Regions from separate parts of the Homo sapiens genome. Here all the other regions are reported to be linked to region 1. The links are microRNA targets in miRTarBase. Many come from high-throughput screens and were not tested one by one. Region 1 holds a microRNA gene; each other region holds the end of a gene's coding sequence.
Evidence for each region. The annotated mature microRNA hsa-miR-296-5p reads AGGGCCCCCCCUCAAUCCUGU and lies in region 1 at 2,582-2,602, shown strand. An mRNA with a match to its seed (bases 2 to 7 or 8) in the 3' UTR can be bound and repressed. Matches are read on the target gene's strand: a 7mer-m8 pairs with bases 2 to 8, a 7mer-A1 pairs with bases 2 to 7 and ends in A, and an 8mer does both.

Region 2: miRTarBase lists SUSD2 as a target of hsa-miR-296-5p. Seed matches in the 3' UTR shown: 7mer-m8 at 3,350-3,356, 7mer-m8 at 3,292-3,298 and 7mer-A1 at 3,208-3,214.
Region 3: the mRNA of SP1 is a reported target of hsa-miR-296-5p. The part of its 3' UTR that is shown has no 7-base or 8-base seed match.
Region 4: the mRNA of ZDHHC8 is a reported target of hsa-miR-296-5p. Seed matches in the 3' UTR shown: 8mer at 947-954, 7mer-m8 at 1,284-1,290, 7mer-m8 at 2,498-2,504 and 8mer at 2,531-2,538.
Region 5: miRTarBase lists DLL4 as a target of hsa-miR-296-5p. Seed matches in the 3' UTR shown: 7mer-m8 at 2,898-2,904 and 7mer-A1 at 2,819-2,825.

The regions. Positions count from the first base shown.
Region 1 is chr20:58,816,122-58,820,262 of GRCh38, reverse strand. MIR296 (microRNA 296) reads left to right here and starts at 2,569; the gene lies at 2,569-2,648. It overlaps MIR298 (microRNA 298), which reads left to right and starts at 1,950; the gene lies at 1,950-2,037. It also overlaps GNAS-AS1.
Region 2 is chr22:24,187,995-24,192,135 of GRCh38, reverse strand. SUSD2 (sushi domain containing 2) reads right to left here. Exons shown (of 15, transcript NM_019601.4): 13 at 4,001-4,141; 14 at 3,809-3,911; 15 at 3,030-3,724. The coding sequence ends at 3,700. Among named protein-coding and RNA genes, the nearest start is that of SUSD2, 8.6 kb to the right of the region's middle. RefSeq lists an enhancer at 1,922-2,563.
Region 3 is chr12:53,410,398-53,414,538 of GRCh38, forward strand. SP1 (Sp1 transcription factor) reads left to right here. Exons shown (of 6, transcript NM_138473.3): 6 at 530-4,141. The coding sequence ends at 843. Among named protein-coding and RNA genes, the nearest start is that of AMHR2, 11 kb to the right of the region's middle.
Region 4 is chr22:20,144,725-20,148,724 of GRCh38, forward strand. ZDHHC8 (zDHHC palmitoyltransferase 8) reads left to right here. Exons shown (of 11, transcript NM_013373.4): 11 at 505-3,283. The coding sequence ends at 676. CCDC188 (coiled-coil domain containing 188) reads right to left here. Exons shown (of 9, transcript NM_001365892.2): 9 at 3,692-4,000. The coding sequence ends at 3,890. Among named protein-coding and RNA genes, the nearest start is that of CCDC188, 4.3 kb to the right of the region's middle. RefSeq lists silencers at 2,283-2,402, 2,443-2,512.
Region 5 is chr15:40,937,137-40,941,277 of GRCh38, reverse strand. It overlaps DLL4 (delta like canonical Notch ligand 4), which reads right to left. Exons shown (of 11, transcript NM_019074.4): 10 at 3,752-3,860; 11 at 2,205-3,249. The coding sequence ends at 3,244. Among named protein-coding and RNA genes, the nearest start is that of DLL4, 9.9 kb to the right of the region's middle. RefSeq lists enhancers at 919-978, 2,261-3,077.

The DNA of each region.
Region 1 (4,141 bases):
TTCTTGATAGGTGAGAAAGTGAGCCCCACCTGTGTGGCTCAGCGGTCAGCACCTAAGGCCGCATCTCCAGTTCCACGACAGAAACACCAGGTCATGTGCATGGGTGGCTGGCGCACACCATCAACACCGTGAAGGCATCTCTTTGCCATTCCTGGTGCCCCCACTGGAGCGGGCGTCTGAACTCTGGAGATTGAGAACCTGGGGGCTCTGGTGGGGCACAGAGTGCCCAAGCCCCTCCCCACTAGATGGCACGGCCGCAGAGGCAGTACGGATGAGCATTCAGCACCCCTTTTCTGGGAGGGTCACCTGGGGCGGGGTGCGAGGACCCCTTTGCCCTGGGCACCTGTTGGACCTGAGTCCGGGTCCCAGCTGTTCTACCTCACACTGAGGTCGTGGTCACCTGTGTGGGTCTGGGTTTTTTGTCCGTGACAAAGGTTGGGACCAGAGGTAGATGGGTTTGCCTGCTCTATTGTTTCATGATGGAAACAATCCTGGTTGGTTGCCTGGTTTCTGCTTGGGTTCCCATTCCTTGCCCCGGCCCTACAGGATCAGTGGAGCACCATAGCCCTGCCTCCTTTCTCTGGCCAGCCAGAGGGCTTCAGAAAAGGCTTATCTAAGCCTGGCTTCTTGCCCTCTGTTCTTGAGGGCCCTGAAGAATTTGACTCTGGCAGATGGCTTCTCTCAGATCAGACACAAAGGCCTTGGAGATTGGGACTCCACACCCATTTCATTGAAACCTGCTCTCCCCCCATCAGAAAAAGGGCCATGTTTTCAAAACCATAACTGCTTCTCTCTTAAATCAACAATAAACAACAGCCTAAAGATTGCCCGTGAAAGTAAGTTCCACTGATGGCCGTTCTGGCCGTTGGAAGCAAGATATCAAGTTGGAGTGTGACCGCAGGCGATCATGCCGCAGGTGAGTGTGTGTGCGCCTGGTTTCATTTCTGTTGTTAATCCTTTGCCCTGTTTTTCTCTTTGTTTTTATTCCAAACCTGTCTGCTCCCAAGGGTCCCTGTCTGCTTCCAAGGGTCCCTGGAACCTTCTGCAGCTGTGCCTCTCCAGAGCTCCGCCTCATTAGTGCCACGTTCCTGGTTTGAAAACCATAGTACTTCAACCTCTTCTAGATGGGAGTTAACCTTTGCCCTCTGAAAGAAAGGTTTGATAAGCAAAGAGAGTTTGGTGAGCAAGATCCTTGAGGTAAGAGCTGATCTCTGACGTCCGCTGGGAACTGGCTGCTCTGCAGGTTTCTGTATCACATTTTCTGCACATGTCCATTAGAATTGGAGATGGGGCGTATCTAGTGTTGAATAAAGGCCCGGCAGGCCCTCCCAGATGCACCCTGTCAGACAGAGCCTACTGTGGATTCTTTAGAAATGGCTTGACTCATTCTTGGTGGCGACCACACCACCCACAGGCACCTAAAATGAAAGGATTTTTGTTAGCTGGTTACCACCAAACCACCTCAGGCAATACGTGGGAGACTCCAAACCAGCTGCTGTTAAAAAAAAAAAAAAGGCAGCAGAGCAGTCATAGAACAGACCCTTCTTACTGCTGCATACAAGATGATCCCATGGAATGCAGGCAGCCACAGCTTTGTCCACATGTGCTCTGTGTATCTGGGGCTGCTAGGCTGGTTAGATTTGTGGTCTTCTTCCTCCTGTGGAGGACCCTAGAGAGAGCCAGCCTGAGCCCTCACCGTTGTTCCTTCCCCGGCAGCACTTACAGAATGATCCTCTAAGACCTCCCCTCCAGCCCTAGCTGGGTTCCTAATTTTCCAGCTATTTAATATCTTCTTTATGTCTCAGTGAATGTTCCCAGGCAGAGTAGCCAGACAGACTCATACTGACAGTTCTCAACAGCCAGTCCCATCCTCCTAAAGATCTCCAGAATCAGCCACATGGACCTGATGCTAGAGGCCTGTCAGCACTGGGGGACCCGGGAGAAGCAGCTCAGGTCTTCAGCAGAAGCAGGGAGGTTCTCCCAGTGGTTTTCCTTGACTGTGAGGAACTAGCCTGCTGCTTTGCTCAGGAGTGAGCTGCCGGCTCCCCTTTGATGTGCTGCGTCTGTTCAGAACTAGGCAGGGGTGCTTCACCGTGGCAGCACTTGAGTTAGGCAGTGGTTCATGGACTCTTCTCCCAGGGCCCCACACAAAACACTGTTAGCACAGACCTGCCACTCAGATCAAGGTGGCCAGCAGAGCCATCAGAGAATAGCCTTCAGAAGATGAATGGCAAGGCCAGCCGGCAGCACGTGAGGCCAGGGCAGAGACGCAGTGAACCGTTCCATGGCGCCCCGAGCCTGCTGCCAAGGCCTCCTTGGAGCTGAGATGGAGGCGGGGTGGCTGAGAGGCAAGCTGGATGTGCATGTTTGGGAAGAGGGCTCCGTAGAAAGTGCTGTAGGGGCCTTGGCTGGGGACCACGTGAGCCCTTGTGCGGAGAGGGCCTGTGTCTGTGGATCTGGGGTCCACCACAGGCCACTGAGATGGGACAGGGCTGGGAGGATTGAGGAGGGAAGATCCTGAGTGAAATTGTGAAATCAGGCCCAGCCTCATGTGGGAGGTGAGGAGAAAGGACCCTTCCAGAGGGCCCCCCCTCAATCCTGTTGTGCCTAATTCAGAGGGTTGGGTGGAGGCTCTCCTGAAGGGCTCTGAAGAGCGCTGCACCCGCAGCTGTGTGCCAGGAGTGGAGACAGGACAGTCGATACAAGAGGGGCCCCTGTCATGTCAGCTGCTGAGTCCCCTGGGGCGGCCGGGCACTGGGGAATGGTGAACTCGCCGTGCCGCGCCTCTGCCACAGTCTCCCGTGGGTCCCCACTGCCGGGAGTTTTACCTACCTCCCACCCTCAGCCACGAGCACCTGCAGGATGCGGTGCCATCCTCGCCGGTGCCCGCTCCCCTTCCGGAGGCTCTCTCCACCCTCACTGACGCCTCCTCGGGAAAGCCCCCGCTCCTTCCCCGACCTCACAGCATGCCAGGTCTGGGGCTTCCGCTGGGGGGCTTACCTGTTTTCCACCCCTGCTAGACTGGGAGCTCCAGGGCAAGGCCGTAGCTGCCTTGCGGATTGTTACGTTGTCCAGCTTGTCTCCACACGTGATACCCAGCAGGTGCCTAATAAACTTGTGTAGAAAGAGTGGTGGATGTTTGCTCTTGTATTTACTCTTCATAGAGCCCAGCTCTGCTTGCTAGAGTCCTCGAAGCAAGTGCGCAGTGTCTGACGGTCTTGGGTTGCTTCTGACTCATGGTGGCTGCTTGGGGGTCATGCTGGAAACATGGCACCCTCAACTCCTGCGTGGAACCAGTTGCCCCCACTGTGATTCCTCTTGCTGCGGCTGGCCCTGCCTTCATGGCATTAGCGCAGCGGGGAGTTGCGGGCTCACTGTCTTAACACCTGTCTCCCCCACCAGACTAAACCCCAAAGGGCAGAACTCTCTCATACACTTAGGACGGAGCAGGTCTCAGGTTATTGCTGGACGGACCAATGGATGAGTGGATGGACAGAGCAAAAAGATGAAAAGACAGGAAGGCAACTGGGGTGTGACAGGCAGGGTGGCCTGACGCTCCCTGTGTGGACAAGACTTGGTGGGAGGTGCCGGGCATGGCTAGGAGGACTTGGGGTGCAAAGTGTCCCCACATCTGTCCTGAGGGCAGAAGCAAGGGTGAGCCTCCCTCCTGCTAGAGCTGGCGGAGTCTCCAAAATAGAGTCCGGACCTGCAGGAACAGTGGCCCTTCCCAGTGCAAGAACGTCACTCAGAGTTGAAAGTTCTGGGGTCTCAGGGACCCCTGAAGTCCATTCTTGAGCCCTTCCCGTGGCTGTGGCCTCCCCTTAGGCAGGGGAAAGGGGGCCAGTGGGGAGCTTCCCCAGGGGCCTCTCTGCAGGAGGCCGCTGGGCACATGGTGGCCCCGCGCTGGGCGCTGTCAGCAGAAGTGCCTGGATCCAGACCCTGGTGGAGACAGCAGGCCAGGAAACCAGTGGCCCCTCTGCCCCCCACTGGGGCCCCATGAGTTACACCAGCCAGGCCCCACAGCTGAGGTACCAGGCGGAAAAGGCCTTGTGTGAATGGGGCAAGAGGCCAGGGGCGCTGGGGAAGGCCAGGAAGAGAGCAGAGAGGCCTTCACTCACACGCAAGCGCACGCCCCAGGGGC
Region 2 (4,141 bases), not on the chromosome of region 1:
GCCTGGGAGGTTGAGGCGGCAATGAGCTATGATCGCACCACTGCACTCCAGCCTGGGTGACAGAGTGAGACCCTGTCTCACAGAAGAAAAGTTTCTTTCCCATCTCAGCACCAACTAACTGCTTCAACAAATGGTCCCTGAAACATATTAAGGCTTAATCACAAAAGAAGTTTATTTCCTGGTCCTGGAAGAGTAGTGGGTGGGTGATCAGGTCAGCAGGGACTTGGTTGGCATGACTTCCAAAGTCAGTCATCCTCACATCCTTGCAACAAAGGGAGCTGGTGAAAGCCTGAAGGGGTGCCTGTGGGAAGCCGCACTCCTCCACGATGCCTCCTTGACTTCCCACTCCTACAGTGCGCTGCACCGACCCCCCCGCCTCCTCCTTGGCAGCATTGGACCCTGAGGACAGGGGTGTCCTGATGGGCCTAGCAGAGGTCTGGCCCACAGCAGGCACTCGGCCACCCTGGGGCTTGCAGAAGGAAGCAGCTTGGCAGAAGAAGGGGTCCCTTGCTCCCCAGCTGTGCCTGTACTGTACTGTACCGAGTCAGAGCCCTCCCTGGCCCCCAGATCAGCCGCACCCACTGTGCTCAGCCAACAGGAGACCTAGTGGGAGGCTGGAGGGCAGGGGGCACAGAGAAGCCGGGCTTCCCTACTCTAGCCAGCAGGGGACCTGCAGCTGGGCTGTCACCTCTGTGACTCCCCTTGGCCCACAGGCCTGCGTGACGCCCGCTTCCATGGGATCTGGGCCTGGCTCCCATAGCACATTCCTTCCTCCCTTTGCCCTTCTGCCCAAGGTGGGTCTTAGGATCCTGCTGGTACCTCATCGGCTCCTGTTTGACCCCCCCAGCTCTCTCATCACCTGTGTCTCCAAAGCCCTGGATTACCATCTGCCCCACTCTGACTGGTACCACCACGATGGTACCGGCCATTGGGTGACTCTGATACTCCATCATTTCAACCCTACTGTAAGCCACCCGCAAGCTCCCATGGCTGCCCGTCCTGCAAGCCCTGGGCTGCTATTTGGGAGACCATCTCCCTGAGGCAGCGGTCCCTGCCTTTGATGTCTCTAGAGAGTCTGCACCGGCTCCAGGCCTTCTGCCTTTGCACAGGCCCTGTCTCTATCTCTTTCGGGCCCCAGGAAAAGCCCCTGGCAGGTGGTGGGGCTTCCCAGCCTGGCCTGCCCCTGGCACTGGGAACATCTGATGTCTGGGACTGGGGCCACAGACAGGGCACCCTTTCTCCTGCTGGAAAGGGGAGGTGGGGGGGCAGACCAAGGGCCCATCCTGGAGGGAGACTGGTGGGGGTGGGGGAGCCCGAGGCAGGCCACACTTTGCTCTTAGGATGAAATCTAAATGCCTTGGCCTGGCAGGGGAGGCCTTGGCTGGCCCCCACCCCTGTCATTCCGCAGACATGACTGCACTTCTCTTTCTCTGAGCCTTTGCATAGACTGCTCCTCTACCCAGAACCCCTGTCCATCTGGAACCCCTGTCCAACCAATCAGAGCTCTGAGAATCCAACCTGTTTCTTGACCTCAGTTCGGGGGCTGCTCTTGTCTGGGACACCCTCTAGTGGACCTGATGAGCTGCCAAGCTGCCCCTGCCGCTCTTGGGCCCCCTGAAAACCTGTGCCCGCTCCCTCATGTCCAGGCCTTGACCCGGAAACTGACCTCTCACCCACTGACACGTGGCCGGCCCAGGCCTGGCGTGGCACAGGGGTGCGCTGGGGATTCAGACAGTGGGAGGGGAGCCCTGCCTTACCTCATCTGTAGGGAGGAAAGTACCTGCCCAGCCCGCCAAGGGGCTGACCCTCAGCCCCACCATGCCTGGAGGTGCAAACCCAGGGGAATGGGGAAGCAACGGAGTGAGCTCTAGAAAGAGAGAAGGCCAGACCCCATTCCCCTCCGCTAGCCTCCCGCCACCCCTGCCCTGCAACCCTCAGCTCGGTTCCCGCACACGTGCCCCATCATGCACATTCACCTCCTCCAGGAAGGCCTCAGATGAGACATGTCTCTGCCTCCCCAGCTCTCCCATTCACCAAGGGCAAGGCTGAGCAGGTGAGAGGCCTGGACTCCCACCCCATGGTCAGTGCCCGCTGAATGACCTGGGGAGACCTGTGCAACCTCTTCAACACTCCTGAGATGCGGGGATGACCCAGGTGCGGGGAGGCGGAGGGGTGGGCTGTGCGCAGACCTTGGCTGCGGTTGTGACCAAGTCGGCTGACCCAGCTGCAGGGCAGGGCTGACTGCCCTCCCAACCTCCTGCCACCCAGACTCGCTGTTCCTATCCTCTGCTGCCCCTATATGGCCACTCCCAGCGCTGCAGGTCACACTGAGGCGGCTCAACTCCCCACCCAGTGTTCTCTACCTGGCCCCCAACTTCCAGCCTCACCCTCTCCAGCACTTTCTCTGAGACCTAAGGGGCAAACCCGACCAATGCTACCCTGCCTGAGTCCCCATTCGGGACCCTCTCCACAAAGGTTGATGGACCCTGGTCATCCTCCAGCTGCTTCCAGGTCTGTGCCTCCATGCCAGGCCCCACAGGAAGCGCCGACAAAGAGCTGCTCAGGTGGGCCACCGTGGCCTGAGGCCTGGGCTCTGTGCCCAGATTCTGGACATTCCTGGGCTAAGGAGCCTGGGCGCTGGTCTCCTGAGGACTTGGAACTGATCCTGCCAGCGACTGCACCCAGCCAAGGAGCCGAGGCTGCAGGGCAGTGCTTGCCAGAGCACGCCAGGGCGTGGTGAGGGGGTGGCACCTCTGTTGAGGGAGGGGTTGTCCTTCTCCATCTCCTGAGTGACCCAAGTGAGCCCTGTGCTGTGTTGGCGGCCTCCCCACCCCACGAGGCGGCCACAGTTCTCCATCCCACTGCATACATGGAGAGAGAGCCTGGGGAGGGAGCATCCCCGGCAACCTCGTGGAGGAAGCAGGCAGGGCTCAGACCTGCCTCACTCTGGATACTGTTGGTGGTGACCCCGGGAGGCGGTCATGGAACTCTCCAGAACCAGGGCGCAGCATGAACACCAGGAGACCAGGGAAGGAAACAAGGCGCTTGTTTTCTCTTTGCACAGGCAGGGAGGGTGTTCCTGAGTGACCTTCCAGAAGAGTTCGAAATTATAAGCCTGGAGTGCCGAGGGAGGCCTCTGCCGCTGGGGGTCTCGCTGTCTGCTTTGGGGTTCTGGGGCCTCTCCTTACCCCATCTGGGGTCCCAGGATGGGCCCAGGGGTCCAGGAACCAAGGCAGCACTGCACTGGTGCCCGCACGGTCCGGGAGCAGGCCTCCGTAGATCAGGGGTCAGGGGCCCCGGCATCAGGCTCTGGGGAGTGAGGTATTGGAATCTGAGGCTCAGGGGTCAGGGGCCCCGGCGTCAGGCTCTAGGGAGTGAGCTATTGGAATCTGAGGCTCAGGTGTGGGAGTGTCAGGGCTCAGGACATAGGTATTAGAATCCCAGGGTATGAAGTTTCAGGTTTGGGGAATTAGAGCCGTGAGTATTTGGGGAAGAGCACGGAGCGCTGCTAGCACGGGGCTTGGGTGTTGGAACACTGGGCCTCCTGCCTGGGGTCTGAGATGACAGAGTAGGGGGTTAAATGCCCAGGTATCAAGTATCCAGGTCCCAGGTGTCTGGTCCTGGGGATGCGGGAGTCGCAGGACTGGGCTGCCTGTTCTCAGGAGTCTTGGCCTGGTGCTCACAGCCAAGCTGCTCCCATCAGGGCTGTGCACCCCAGACGTGCCTGCAACAGAAACGCAGTTAGAAGTAGCCTCGGTGGTCCCACCGGCTGTCTCGGGGTCTTGGGAGAGGGGCTGGGGGGTCTCACGTGTTGCCCTTCCTGCGGCGCAGCAGCACATAGACGAGCGCAACCGCCGCCACCACCGCGAGGCCCCCAAAGATGATGCCCAACAGCACCGCGTAGCTGCGTCCTGGTGAGGGAGCGAGTGTCAGTGAGGGGGCTCTCTGGGGTGGTGAGTGGGGACAGGTGCAGGCAGGTGTATGAGCAGAGTGTCCTCACCTGGCTGGCACTTCGGGGTGGGTGAGGACCAGGTGCCGTCAGCCTGGCAGGTGCTGGTCTCTGCCCCGGCCAGGCTGTAGCCGTTGTCACAGTGGAAGTAGATGGTGGAACCCGCCAGGTACCTGTTGCCCTCCTTTTGTC
Region 3 (4,141 bases), not on the chromosome of region 1:
CCTTACTTTTAAAACTGCTAAGTTCTACCTTCCTTACCGAGTACTCCCCAACCTTTATCTAGTTTTCTTCCTCACGCCCCCGCCAAAAGGAAAATATACTTGAAGTTTTTTGTTTTTTGTTTTTTTTTTGAGACAGAGTCTCTGTCGCCCAGGCTGGAGTGCAGTGGCGCGATCTCGGCTCACTGCAAGCTCCGCCTCCCGGGTCCACGCCATTCTCCTGCCTCAGCCTCTCCGAGTAGCTGGGACTACAGGCGCCCGCCACCACGCCCGGCTAATTTTTTGTATTTTTAGTAGAGACAGGGTTTCACCGTGGTCTTGATCTCCTGACCTCGTGATCTGCCCGCCTTGGCCTCCCAAAGTGCTGGGATTACAAGCGTGAGCCACCACGCCCAGCCACTTGAAGATTTTTCTTGTTTTTGATCACCTTCTCATACTGGCCTTACTCAGCTTAGTAGAGTAAGCACTGAATTGGGTAAGGTAACCTCACTTCCTAACATGTCAGCTTCTTATCTTTTCTTCCTTTACCTAGGTGAGAAGAAATTTGCCTGCCCTGAGTGTCCTAAGCGCTTCATGAGGAGTGACCACCTGTCAAAACATATCAAGACCCACCAGAATAAGAAGGGAGGCCCAGGTGTAGCTCTGAGTGTGGGCACTTTGCCCCTGGACAGTGGGGCAGGTTCAGAAGGCAGTGGCACTGCCACTCCTTCAGCCCTTATTACCACCAATATGGTAGCCATGGAGGCCATCTGTCCAGAGGGCATTGCCCGTCTTGCCAACAGTGGCATCAACGTCATGCAGGTGGCAGATCTGCAGTCCATTAATATCAGTGGCAATGGCTTCTGAGATCAGGCACCCGGGGCCAGAGACATATGGGCCATACCCCTTAACCCCGGGATGCAAGGTAGCATGGGTCCAAGAGACATGGAAGAGAGAGCCATGAAGCATTAAAATGCATGGTGTTGAGAAGAATCAGGAGAGGGATACAAGAGAGGAGATGGGGTCCCGGCACCCATCTGTATCATCAGTGCCTCTTTGAAGGTGGGAAACATTAGTGAAAATTCTGTTGGTGCCACGCTTTGATGAGCATTTGTTTGACCCCAGTTTCTTCTTACACTTCTTACCCCAGCCTACCCTTCCTGCATTTCTCTTCTCAGCTCTTCCATGATGGATTCCCCCCCCTTTCCTAAAGCCATCATGCCTTGATAAATATATATGATCATTGAAATACTTTTTAACAAAAAACAGATTCTATATTATTATATATATATATATATATATAAAGATATATAGAGATGCATTCACAGGGGTTGGCTGGGAGGAGGAAGACCATTCTGTGACCAAAATACCTTGGTCATTTTTTTTATATTGCCTTATTTCCCTATGGCTGAGCCTTGTTGTGACACATCAAGCTTTTCTGTAGATGTTGTCTTGGCTTCCCACCAGCTTAAGCGTTCATATGCTCTGCTTTTAGTTCATATATACATACATAATGTTTTTCCTTTCTTAATTTTGTCTTTTTGTTTGGGATCAGCTTCTTGCACTCCTTCCCTAACTCAACTGTTGCCGTCTCATCTTCTCTCATCTGATCACTTCATGTTTTGTTTTTGTTACTGCCTGGATGAGGCACTTCTGTCAATTTTTTCAGGACCTTAGTTCCAGCAGCAGAATGGAAAAATCCTTGAAGCCCAGGCTGATGCTTGAAGTAACTGTGGAGGGAGTGTTCAAAATACTACTGACGCAGGCACCTTCTTGGCGCTGGAGAGTCAAAGGCATCTCCCTTCATTAGCTGCTCTGAGCATCAAGAATTAGAAGTCTTTCAGTGGAATTGTACAAGAGTCCCTTTGAAGATAATAATCTTGGCTCAGTTTGTATAAACTGTCAAATTTTCAAATAATAGGTAGGGGGCTTTCACTAGGAAAATCATGTGCTCAGAAGAGGAAATGACTCGTAGTCAGGTTCAGGAGTTAGTGGAGTATTTGGACTTTGGTACTGCTGTCTTCCAAGGTAGCTCTAAGTTTTGATGTGTGGGCTTCTGAGTTTATATTCTGAAAGGAAATACACTTCTTTTGAACATCCCCACTAGGTTCTTTTCCATTGTCAATAAGGAGCATCAGCCAGTGAATCTGTTTCAGGTTTCCATTCTGCAGAACTCCTCCAAAGCATGTGCTAGTGGCAAGACAGTGGTTCTTATGATGTTTTCCCTTAACTTTTCCTTGTATGTTCTTGGGTGGTTCCTAAGGGAAAGGGAAGCACATGATCATGGGAATGATAGCCCAGAACAAAAAGAAATCTTGTCTTACCACAGTGTTTTATAGGAGAGATTGGGAGAAATCATCCTGTTTTCTCTGTGACCTGATTTCAGAAGAGACTGATCCAAAAATTATAACGGCAGGGAACCTAGTGCATTTGGCACTGAGATTTAAATGCAACCAGAATTGTCCTCAAGGCCCAGCCATAAAAGCATTGTCTCTCTCGACCTTCTGGTATCTTGTTAGAGAGCTTTTCACTGTGAGGAAGTGTGGAAAAATAGCTCTGTGTGTGTGTGTGTGTGTGTGTGTGTGTGTGTGTGTAATCTGTTAGGTTGGGGATAGGTTTTCTGCTAGCCAATATTAAAAGAGACCTGCAATAAAAAAATTACCCTGATCTGATAGAAAGCAAGTGTTTTTGTATGTGTGGGTGAATGTGTGTTCATGCCCGTATATGTCTACACACAGATGACAAATTATATTTGAAATCGTTGGAAAATAAATTCAGATCAAAATGCCTTTCAGGCCCATTACCTAGAAATCTATCTTAAAACCTGGGTATGTTCCTAAGGTCATTTCTTTGCTTATGCTAAATTAATTACAATTATGAATGGAGGATATTCTACTGTACTTTTTTAAAAAGAAACTATTTTTGTGTTTGAAAGTGAAACCAACATCCAGATCTATAGCAGAGTCCTTATTCTTCTCATAAATCTTTTTACTTTGGCTACAAATAGATGATGGTATGATTCTATTATATATTTTATATAAAATCCATCCAAATTAAGTTTTGGGTAAGTGTGTTGTTTAATCTGAACTATAGTAACTTAATACTCTAAACAATAGTTCACTCCATTTGGTCCTTTCTCCACAGATGTAATTATGTTTTCAACTCAGGAACTATGGCAAGGAACTTTCCCCAGATCAAATTCTATTAACGCTGAGATACAAGTCATCCATGCACAGCCACTATCATACCCTTTATTCTCACTGAAAGGCAGAACTCAGAACCTGTTATTTTATGTCTGTAATCATGTACTTTGGCATCTTTTGGAGGAAAGGGGCAGGATAACTCACTGGAATGTACAGTATTTTGCTAGTGCATTTCAAGGAATGGAATCTTCTCCAGTATGAAATTACCAGATATAAAATAATGTAATGATGCTGAGGATATAAGCTTTTAGAAGGTAATTTGATGGTATTTCTTTCTCGAATGAAAAGCTGCTGGTTTACCCTCAACCCTATTCATTAGCATTACCATGAGTGAATTTATATCTAATTATTTCCACTTGCCCTGTTCTCTTCACACCAAGGAAGCTCCAGATCCAGTATCTTGTTTGGCCTCAAAACAGAAGCAGCTTCTTTTGTCTCCCAGCAGTAGTGAGCCACTCAGTCTCTTCCACAGGAAGTTTGGAGCCTACATTCCTTGAGTCAGGAGCTTATTACAGAAAAACCCCGTTTCCCTGAACTTTTGGCTAACAGAAATTAATTTAACTGACATGCATATTGATTCTGAAATTTTTTTCCTAAGTTTTTTTCATTTTTTTGAATGAGTTTTTTAAATTTTTTAGATGACCAAAACTTGCAGGGCAGGGGATGCCCAGAAGAGTGGTGAGATAGTAAAACACTTATTCCCTCATCCTTTCAGGTTTTCAGGTTGCCCATTTATATTCATTTACATGTCATTTGACTGTCTCACTTTTTACCCAGAACAGTAACAACCCACACCGTCTTCCTTCAGGGATTTCCAACTGGCACTCTGTGGGTGCTACACAGAATGCAATTTAATGGATATTTCTCAGCCTGGTTCAGAATAAATTGATCCTTTGATCCCAGAAAGTATATACTGAAGTGTGGGATAAAGATTATGATTAGGGGAGGGTTGGAGACAAAAG
Region 4 (4,000 bases), not on the chromosome of region 1:
GCAGGGATCGCAGCCCGGGGACAAAGGGCTCTCGCCTCAAGAAGGTTTAAGTAGCAAAGATACAGCTGCTGTTGGTCAGCGCTGGTGGGCAGGAGGGCAGCCCCTCGTTTTCCTGAGAGAGAGCAGGAATGAGGCCAGGCAGAGTGGCTGGGCTCCCAGTGCAGGGCACGGCAGGGGCTCCATTCAGTGCCCACCTGGCTGCCCCATGCTCTCTGTGGCCAGTGCTGGCTAGGAGGGACCCAGGGACTCGGGAGGGTGGTGGCAGTTCTGACAACATCTGTCTGTCCTGTGACAGCACAGCTGCTCCCCAGGCAGGCTCTGCATCCCTCACCTGCTTTCCAGGTGAACCCTCCAAGCCCAGAGGGCAGGGACTGCACGGGGCCCCACAACTCGGCTGCACTAGTCCACGTCCGCGTCGTCTCTGTCTTGCTGCCTCCTCCGTCCTCTGTCCCCGTGTTCGTGTGTTCACCGTGTGCATGTGTGTATGTGCTTGTTTTGATGCAGGGACCACCCTCAGCTGAAGACTCCCCCAAGTAAGCTTAATGGGCAGTCCCCGGGCCTGGCCCGGCTGGGACCTGCCACCGGCCCCCCAGGGCCCTCTGCCAGCCCTACACGGCACACGCTGGTTAAGAAGGTGTCCGGCGTGGGTGGGACCACCTACGAGATCTCGGTGTGAGGACTGACTGCCACACATCCGCCATGGTGCCACGGGGACCAGGACCCCACAGCGCACCCCCCCTCCCCACCAACTTCTCTGCCCCAGGGACCCGAGGCCACCCCAGCCTGGTGTGGACCCATCGGCGGGAGAGAGTGCCACGCCTCCACAGCTTGCCCCAAGCGCTCTGCCTGCCCGTCCACTCATCTGCCCATGGGGAAGTCGGCTCACTGGGACAAGGGCCACTGGGCTGGTCTGTGTCTGGGCCTGTCCCATGGCTGGGGCAGTGAGGGGGCCCAGTCAGCCTCTTTGGGGCACCCTCTCTCAGCCAGGCTTGGCCCACTGCCATCACCCAGCACCCCAGATCACCGCCAGGCCAGCCCCCAATGGTCCCCTTACGGACAGGTCCCAGAGATGGACAGAGGCACCCAGGGCCCCCACCGTCCTTCTGACACAGCCTGTGGGCTCCCGGACCGAGTGTCCCCCGCCAGGCTACTCCTAACTAACGCGTTGCCTTTCACGGACCCCGCTGGAAGCTTGTAGCTTGGCAAGGCTGATGCTTCTGCCCTGGCCTGCTCTGGGTGGTGGTGGATAGGTGGACAGACGGCCAGCCAGCCAGCTGTGGCCGGGGGCCCGGCTCCATGTGTCCCGTGTCTGTGTGCTGTGCTGCCGCGCCGTGTCTGATGTGTCAGTGCTCCGGCCGCCGCTGTCCCTTTCATCAAAGCCTTAACCTTTGCTTTATGCTCTTGTGGGAGGCGACGGGGGGGCAGGCGGGAGCAGGCACGGGGGTGATGCTGCCACAGGGGGCTGGTGACACCCAGAGCCCCCTCCCCAGCCCTCAGGCCCTCCCTGCCAAACTGGAGAACCCCACCCCAAGGCATGCCACGTCCGCAGCCCCGGCCTGGCTGCGGTGCTCGCGCCGTGGGAAAGCACACTGGGGAGGGGTCAGTGCTTCCCTTGGTGTCAGGGACCTGAGAGTAAGCACATGACAGCGTCTGCTTGCGTTGTGTCTGTTTTATGTTTTTATATCTACATCTATATATCTATAATTTTATTAAAAAAAAGAAAAAGAGTTATTTTGATTCTTTCCTTGGGCAAGGCCAGGGCTATTGCTGCAGGATCCCGAGTTAGGGGAGGGCAGGGGCCGGGCCCCAGAAGAGGGAGTGGCTGCTGTCTGGTGTGCAGGGGTCGGTGGGTTCCTCAGGGGCATTTCTGCCGACTTGGGCTGAGTCAGAGGCTTGGGAAGAGGGGGCGGCCGATGGTCTGTGGCTGGGAAGTGTGAGGGTCTCTCGCCTTGGGTCTGTGTCAGTTCTGGCAGTGACAGGGTGTTTGGGGGAAAGACTTGGGTCTGCCGCTACCCACAGGGGACTCTCAGGAACCCGAGAGCTTGGGGAGATGAAATGGGGGTGCATAGGGGCCACCTGTTGGCTCAGGGCCCTGTGGGGGCCGCTGAACCTGCTGGAACTCTCCTGCCTGCCACATGCCAGGGGCAGGGCTGAGGGAGTGTGAGGGATGCACAGCTGTTCAGGGCTGAGACATTCTGGGCTGGGGCTGTCCCAGCGTGGGAGGCGTGCGGGCTGTAGGGCCCCGAAGCTGACCTCCACCTTTCTGCTTCTCTCTCACGGACGCCGCGGCCCGCAGGGGGCGGATTGGCACCTGCACCCGTGGATGGGGGCGGCGTGGCCAGCCTTGGGTGCCTCCTGGGCTGCACCTGTGCCACCTTGGCCGCCCGGAGGACCGCCCACCACTGCGGGCCCCCTGGAGCCAGGCCGCCGGGGCACCCCCACGCGGGGCCATGTGCCGCCTGCACTTGGCTGCCTCCAGTCTTTTCCCCAGCCTCTCGGGGCCCTAGCAGGATGACAAGTAGGCGGCTCTGGGGCCCAGGACAGCCCAGCTGGGGACCCAGGAGGTCAGACTGCAGTGGACCCTGGGGCAGGGCTGGGGGTGGGCTGGGCTCTCTGCTCCACCAGCCACAGCTTGACAGATTCCCAGCCTGCCAGGGCCTGAGACCCTGTGTCCACATGACCTCAGGGAGTCCCCCACCTGCTGCAGGGGGTCCAGCACCCCACAGGGGGGCAGTCCCAGAGCTGTGGGGACCGGCACGACCTTTGCCCAGCCTCCCTACCCAACCAAGCACTTTAGACTAAGCCACTTCCTCCTCGGGGAGCCCAGGCCTCCGTGGGTTGGGCTGGGTGGGGGGGGGGTCTCAGGTTGCCCCTGAAGGTCTCTGCACTCCTCCTGCCCTTCCCCTGACACATGAACAGATGCCTTAACTTCCTGGAGCCACCAGCCTGGTGAGCCATTGGCCTCTGCCTGCCACCAAGGTCCTGTGGTCTTGGCCAGCTCCGCCTGGGCCCCACTGGGGCTGCCTGCACCCAGAGACGATGCCGGCGGGATCTCAGAGGGCCTGAGGCCCAAGCCCTGTGTCCTCCAGCAGTGGTACGGCCTGCGGCAGGGTGGCACTCCGGCCAGCCCTTCTCCGTCACAGGGTCCCTGTCCCTGGGTCCACCCTGGGCTGTGGCTCTACATCTCCCATTTGGGGACGAGAAAGCCACAAAACCATTCTCTATTGTTCTTAAGGGTACCCCTGCTAATTAATTCCCCAAATAAAATTTTTGGTGTTGATCAGCTCTGTCTACCAATGTGGTCCCCTGGACCGGACAGGGCCCTGGGTTGGGGAGGTGACAGGACCTGGGCAGGGAGGGTGGTGGCCAGGAAGGGAGGGGAGTTGCATGAGGGGCATGAGGTCAGTGGATCAGCAGGTTCAGCGCTGAAAACCTGACCTCTGAGGTCCCTGGGAGGGCCTGGCCCAGGGGGCAAGACCTGAGGACCCCCCAGTCCTTACTGCTGTTGCCTTTCAGTGGAGACCCTCCTAAGACGCCTTGGGGGGTCAGAGCCCCGTGCAGAGGGGCTGCCTTCTGGAGGGCAGGTAGGATGTGGGGTGGGAAGCCGGCCCTGAGCTGGGGTCTCCACCCTGAGGGACCCTCGCTGCAGGATCGCCTGGGCATCCCTCCCCCAATTTCCACAGAGACGTGCTCACCGGCCACTTATGTCATGATTCTATGTCCAGCCACAGGCCCAGCCCTCAGGACAGACCCCACCTCCACCCTTCTCTGCAGCTTCTGGCAAGGATGGTGCACAGTGGTGCCATGTGCAGGGGGCTGGCACGGCCACTGGGCATCCGGGGCAGTGCTGGTCGCCTGGCCTCCTTGCTGGGGCCGCTGGGCCTCTGGCCTAGAAGGGCAGGAAGCCGTCCACTTTGAGGCGCAGGAAGGGGTCCAGCAGGGCCCGGAGCTTCCAGACGGTGGCACGGCTCAGCAGGGGTGGCACCAGCCCCTCGAAAGG
Region 5 (4,141 bases), not on the chromosome of region 1:
CTCTACCAGCCGAGGGGCCCTGGAAAAGCAGCTGTCCTCAGGTCACCGTGGGGTCAAATTGATTCTCCAGGCAGGGCACTGGCTCCAGGCTGTTAAGGAACTACTAAACTCCGAATTCCCTGGTGAAATACCCATGCAAATTAAAGGTGGGCATTTGCTAACCTGTGGAAGGCACCTCACAGTGAGTCTAGAACCATTATCTGGCCTCCTTTCTGCCAAGCCTAGGAAATCTCCTGTACCCCAGGACACTCAAGTGATCATGAGGGTCTTGGGTGCCTTACCTATCAGAAGGGGCTGGACTCTCAGGAAATCCTGGGGAGAAGGGGCTTCCTCCGCTGTGGCCTGTTTACACCCCAAGTGCCTGCCCAGCTTGTGGGATGTTGTTAAAGGTGGAGCCTGGCATGAGCTGCAGGTCGGAGCTGCCCAGACCAAGTTCCCCACGGGTCCCCACTTTCCCCAGAAAGCCAGCTTTTTTGGTGGGCTCTCCAGCTCCCCATCTAGTGCATCAGAGCAGCTGTGAGCTTTGCCAGCCAACTCCTCTCCGGGGCTCTTCTCTGCGAGTCTGGCAGCCTGTGCAGCCCGTCACAGCCTGGTGTTGTGGACGTGCAGGGCTGCGGGTGTCCTACCTGTCCCCCACATGGGAGCCTCGTCATCTTGCCTTCGTGTCCCAGCCCAGTTCCCCCCTCCCGTACACCCCTAGGGCCTGGGAGCTGCTTTCCTGTTTCATTTTGGGCAGGAAGAGTGAGGTCGTGTTGTTCTTCCCCCTGCTGCCGGCTCAGGCTGTGGGAACGGTTCCCTGAATGCTTTCCTGTTTGATACCCTGTGTGTACAGTGAAGGGAACAGGGAGCGATGAGTGAGGCGTGGAGCGTGTGCGTGCTCCTGTGTCTCTGGCATAAGCACCCAGGTCTGGGGTGGGCATGGTGTGTCTGTGTCAAGGAGAGAGGAAAAAAGGGAGGGCAAGTAGCACTCCAAACCCTTGGACTCCATTAGGAGCAGGGCATCTAATGGGTCTATTTTGCTTTACTGTGGACAGGCTGAGAGCTGGGAGCATCTGCTCAGCTTTTTGTCAGTGGCTCATTTTTTCATAATTTGCTCTCCATGGAGGAGCATATTTTCGGCTATAGAGAGGGCTGTGGCACCCTAGGGACTATCCTGTGCCTTAGAGGAAGCTAGGCATGAAACTCCTAGTGAGACTGGAAACCCCCTCATTAGTGCCTCAGCAAGAGAAACCTGGACTCAGGGAAGGCTACCTCCTCCTCCCCTTTCTCCCTGTCTTTGCAGTCTTCAATAAATTCTAGCAGCCCTGGGCAGACAAGGTGCTCAGACTCTCAGCGCTCTTGTCTGCTACAAAGAGGAAAAACAAGGCAAACCTCCCTCCTGCCCTGTCTCCTGAGACCTGTACCCTGCTGGGGCTAAGAAAAGAGCCAGGCACCCTGCAACAGCAGGAGGAAGGACTCAGATGTCACCAGGGTGCAGAGGCCCTATCCCATCCACCGACGAGAGAATGCTTTTTTTTTTTTTTTTTTTTTTGAGATGGAGTCTCGCTCTGTCGCCCAGGCTGGAGTGCAGTTGCGCTATCTTGGCTCACTGCAAGCTCCACCTCCTGGGTTCATGCCATTCTCCTGCCTCAGCCTCCCGAGTAGCTGGGACTACAGGCACCCGCCACCACACTGGGCTAATTTTTTGTATTTTTAGTAGAGACGGGGTTTCACCCTATTAGCCAGGATGGTCTCGATCTCTTGACCTCGTGATCTGCCCGCCTTGACCTCCCAAAGTGCTGGGATTATAGGCGTGAGCCACCGCTCCCGGCCAAGAGAATCCTTTTGAATATGAGAAAAACAGGCAGAACTAGGGAGCCCCATAAGCTTTTTCAGGCTTGAAGAGAGGAAGGAAGAAGTGATTCAGGTCAGGAGGAACATGCCCCAGGAATGGTGAGGGCATAAAGAGGGAAGGGGGCACTGTACCAACTCAAAGTCAGCAGGCAAGGAAGGCTGGCTGAGGCTGGGGACTAGATGGGTGAGGCTCGGCTCCTCAACGAATGGAAGAAGACAAGGGCCTGGGGTACGACATGCCAAATCCAAGTGTCTGCACGGGTCCCAGGGGTTCCGGCGGGGCACATGGCAGCAGTAGAAGGGAGTTTAGAGTTTTTTGGGTGAGAGGGCAGGGGTACCATCACAAAGACAGGACCCAATAAGTAATAAACTCCTGTACACATCTGTTTCATATTATAAATACACATTATATACAAAATAATGTTATAAAATGTAGAAAGGTCAGTGCTTCTGATTCTTAAATTATTGAAATACTAGACTCCAAAATAAACTACAAAAAAAAAAAAAAAAACAAAATAAAAACTCATATTATTGATTTCTGAAGACCAGCTTTGAGGGTGGTCTGGGGCAGTAGTGGACCAGAGCCCAGGCTCGAGGTTGTGGAGATGGGCTTGAGGGAGGAAAGGGCCCAGGCGGCCGCAGCACCTGATTTCCCCCTCAGTGGAATTTCCAACACACTGCCCTGAGTGCCCCAGTTAGGCCTGGCACCCTTGGCTGGTGGGAGGGGCAGGCCCTCTGCCTGTCTGCTTACAGAAGCCCAGGGCCAGAGGGTGGTGGAAGCCGGGTAGACGGACATTCTTGCCCAAAGGGCCTAGACCAGAGAGCCAGGCCTGCATACAGTAGTTGGAGGCATGGGGCAGAAAGCACTCCCCTCCCTCGAGCACTCACCTCACCTCCAGGGCAAACCCCAGCAAGAGACGCACCCAGTGGTTTTCCAGCCCACAGGAGGCCCTGCCCTCATTGGCCCCCTCTCTCCTTTCTGATTTGGGCCCAACTGTCGCCGTGGAGCCTGGGCCAAAGGCACTTTTGGAAACACGGATGCCAGTGGAGGCCACAGCAGCTCCGGGCCCCATGGGGCTACTGCCACTCTCTCTGGAAAACAGGCCGGAGCCCCGGAAGGAGCCCCCTGAAGGCCACTACTGGCAGGGCAGTGCCCAGTGGCATCTCTCTTCTCTTCTGTTCCTCTGGTTGGTGCAGCTGCCAATCTGATGCCAGACAGACACCCAAAGGTGTGGAAGGGTATTGCATCTCTTGGCAAGTTCACAGTCTGTCCGGTTCCTGCCATTCCCTCCTCCTCCTGAGAGCAGCACGTTGCATATGAAAAACGTCCCATCCAGGATGCAATGTAAACAATGCAGAAGGAAGGTCCAGCCGCGGGGCTGAGCAGGGATGTCCAGGTAGGCTCCTGCCTTATACCTGGGAGCAAGCGGAAGGCAGGGAAACAGGTTACCCTGGGCATGCGCACTCCCTCCAGGCCCTCCCTGGGCCTCCCTGGGAGAAGGCGATGGGGCAGGCAGGGGCTAAGGGCAGGTGGGGCAGTCCTCCCCAGTCTTCGGCCCAACACACACACGGGCCTGGGAGCTTGCGCTCATGAGGTCAATGGAGGAAGCCAGTGGGAAGGGGCAGGAAGGGCACAAGGGGTGAGGGGCCCCCTCACCCATCAGAGGCTGGCCAGCAGTGCCGTGGCTGCCCAACCCAGCACCAATACAGCAGGAAAGGACCAGACCAGGCTTGCCGCCATGGTTCCTGTTTCACACCCTTAGTGGCAATGAGGCCAGCAGGGACCCAAGAGTCCACTGAACTTGGCCTGCCAAGGCAGGGTTCTGACCTACCCTTCAGGAATGGCCCATGGGTCAAGAGTGACCAGGCCACTTTCCCTCCCACAAAAGGCAGAAGGAAAGGCGAGCCCAGCACTCACCTCCGTGGCAATGACACATTCATTCCTCTCCTCTGATATCAAACACACAGACTGGTACATGGAGTCCCTGGGGGAGCATATCGCTGATATCCGACACTCTGGCTTTTCACTGAGGGAACACAAGACAGGCGTGTAAGGGAGGGACGGGGAGAGGCTTGGGGGGAGGGAGGACCCTGGAGAGCCAAAGGGCATCTGCAGGGTGGTTCTTGGGGAAGACACAGGGGCTGGACGTGCCCAGTGCTGGGCTGCTGCAGGGGGGCACTTAGGAAAAGGCCCCTAAGAGAGTCACAGGCCTCCCAACCTCACCAGAAGGGTCTGAGCCCTGCATAAAGCCAGTGCTGCCACTAGAGGCAAGCCACACTGTGGAAAGACGGAAGTCACAAGAGACAC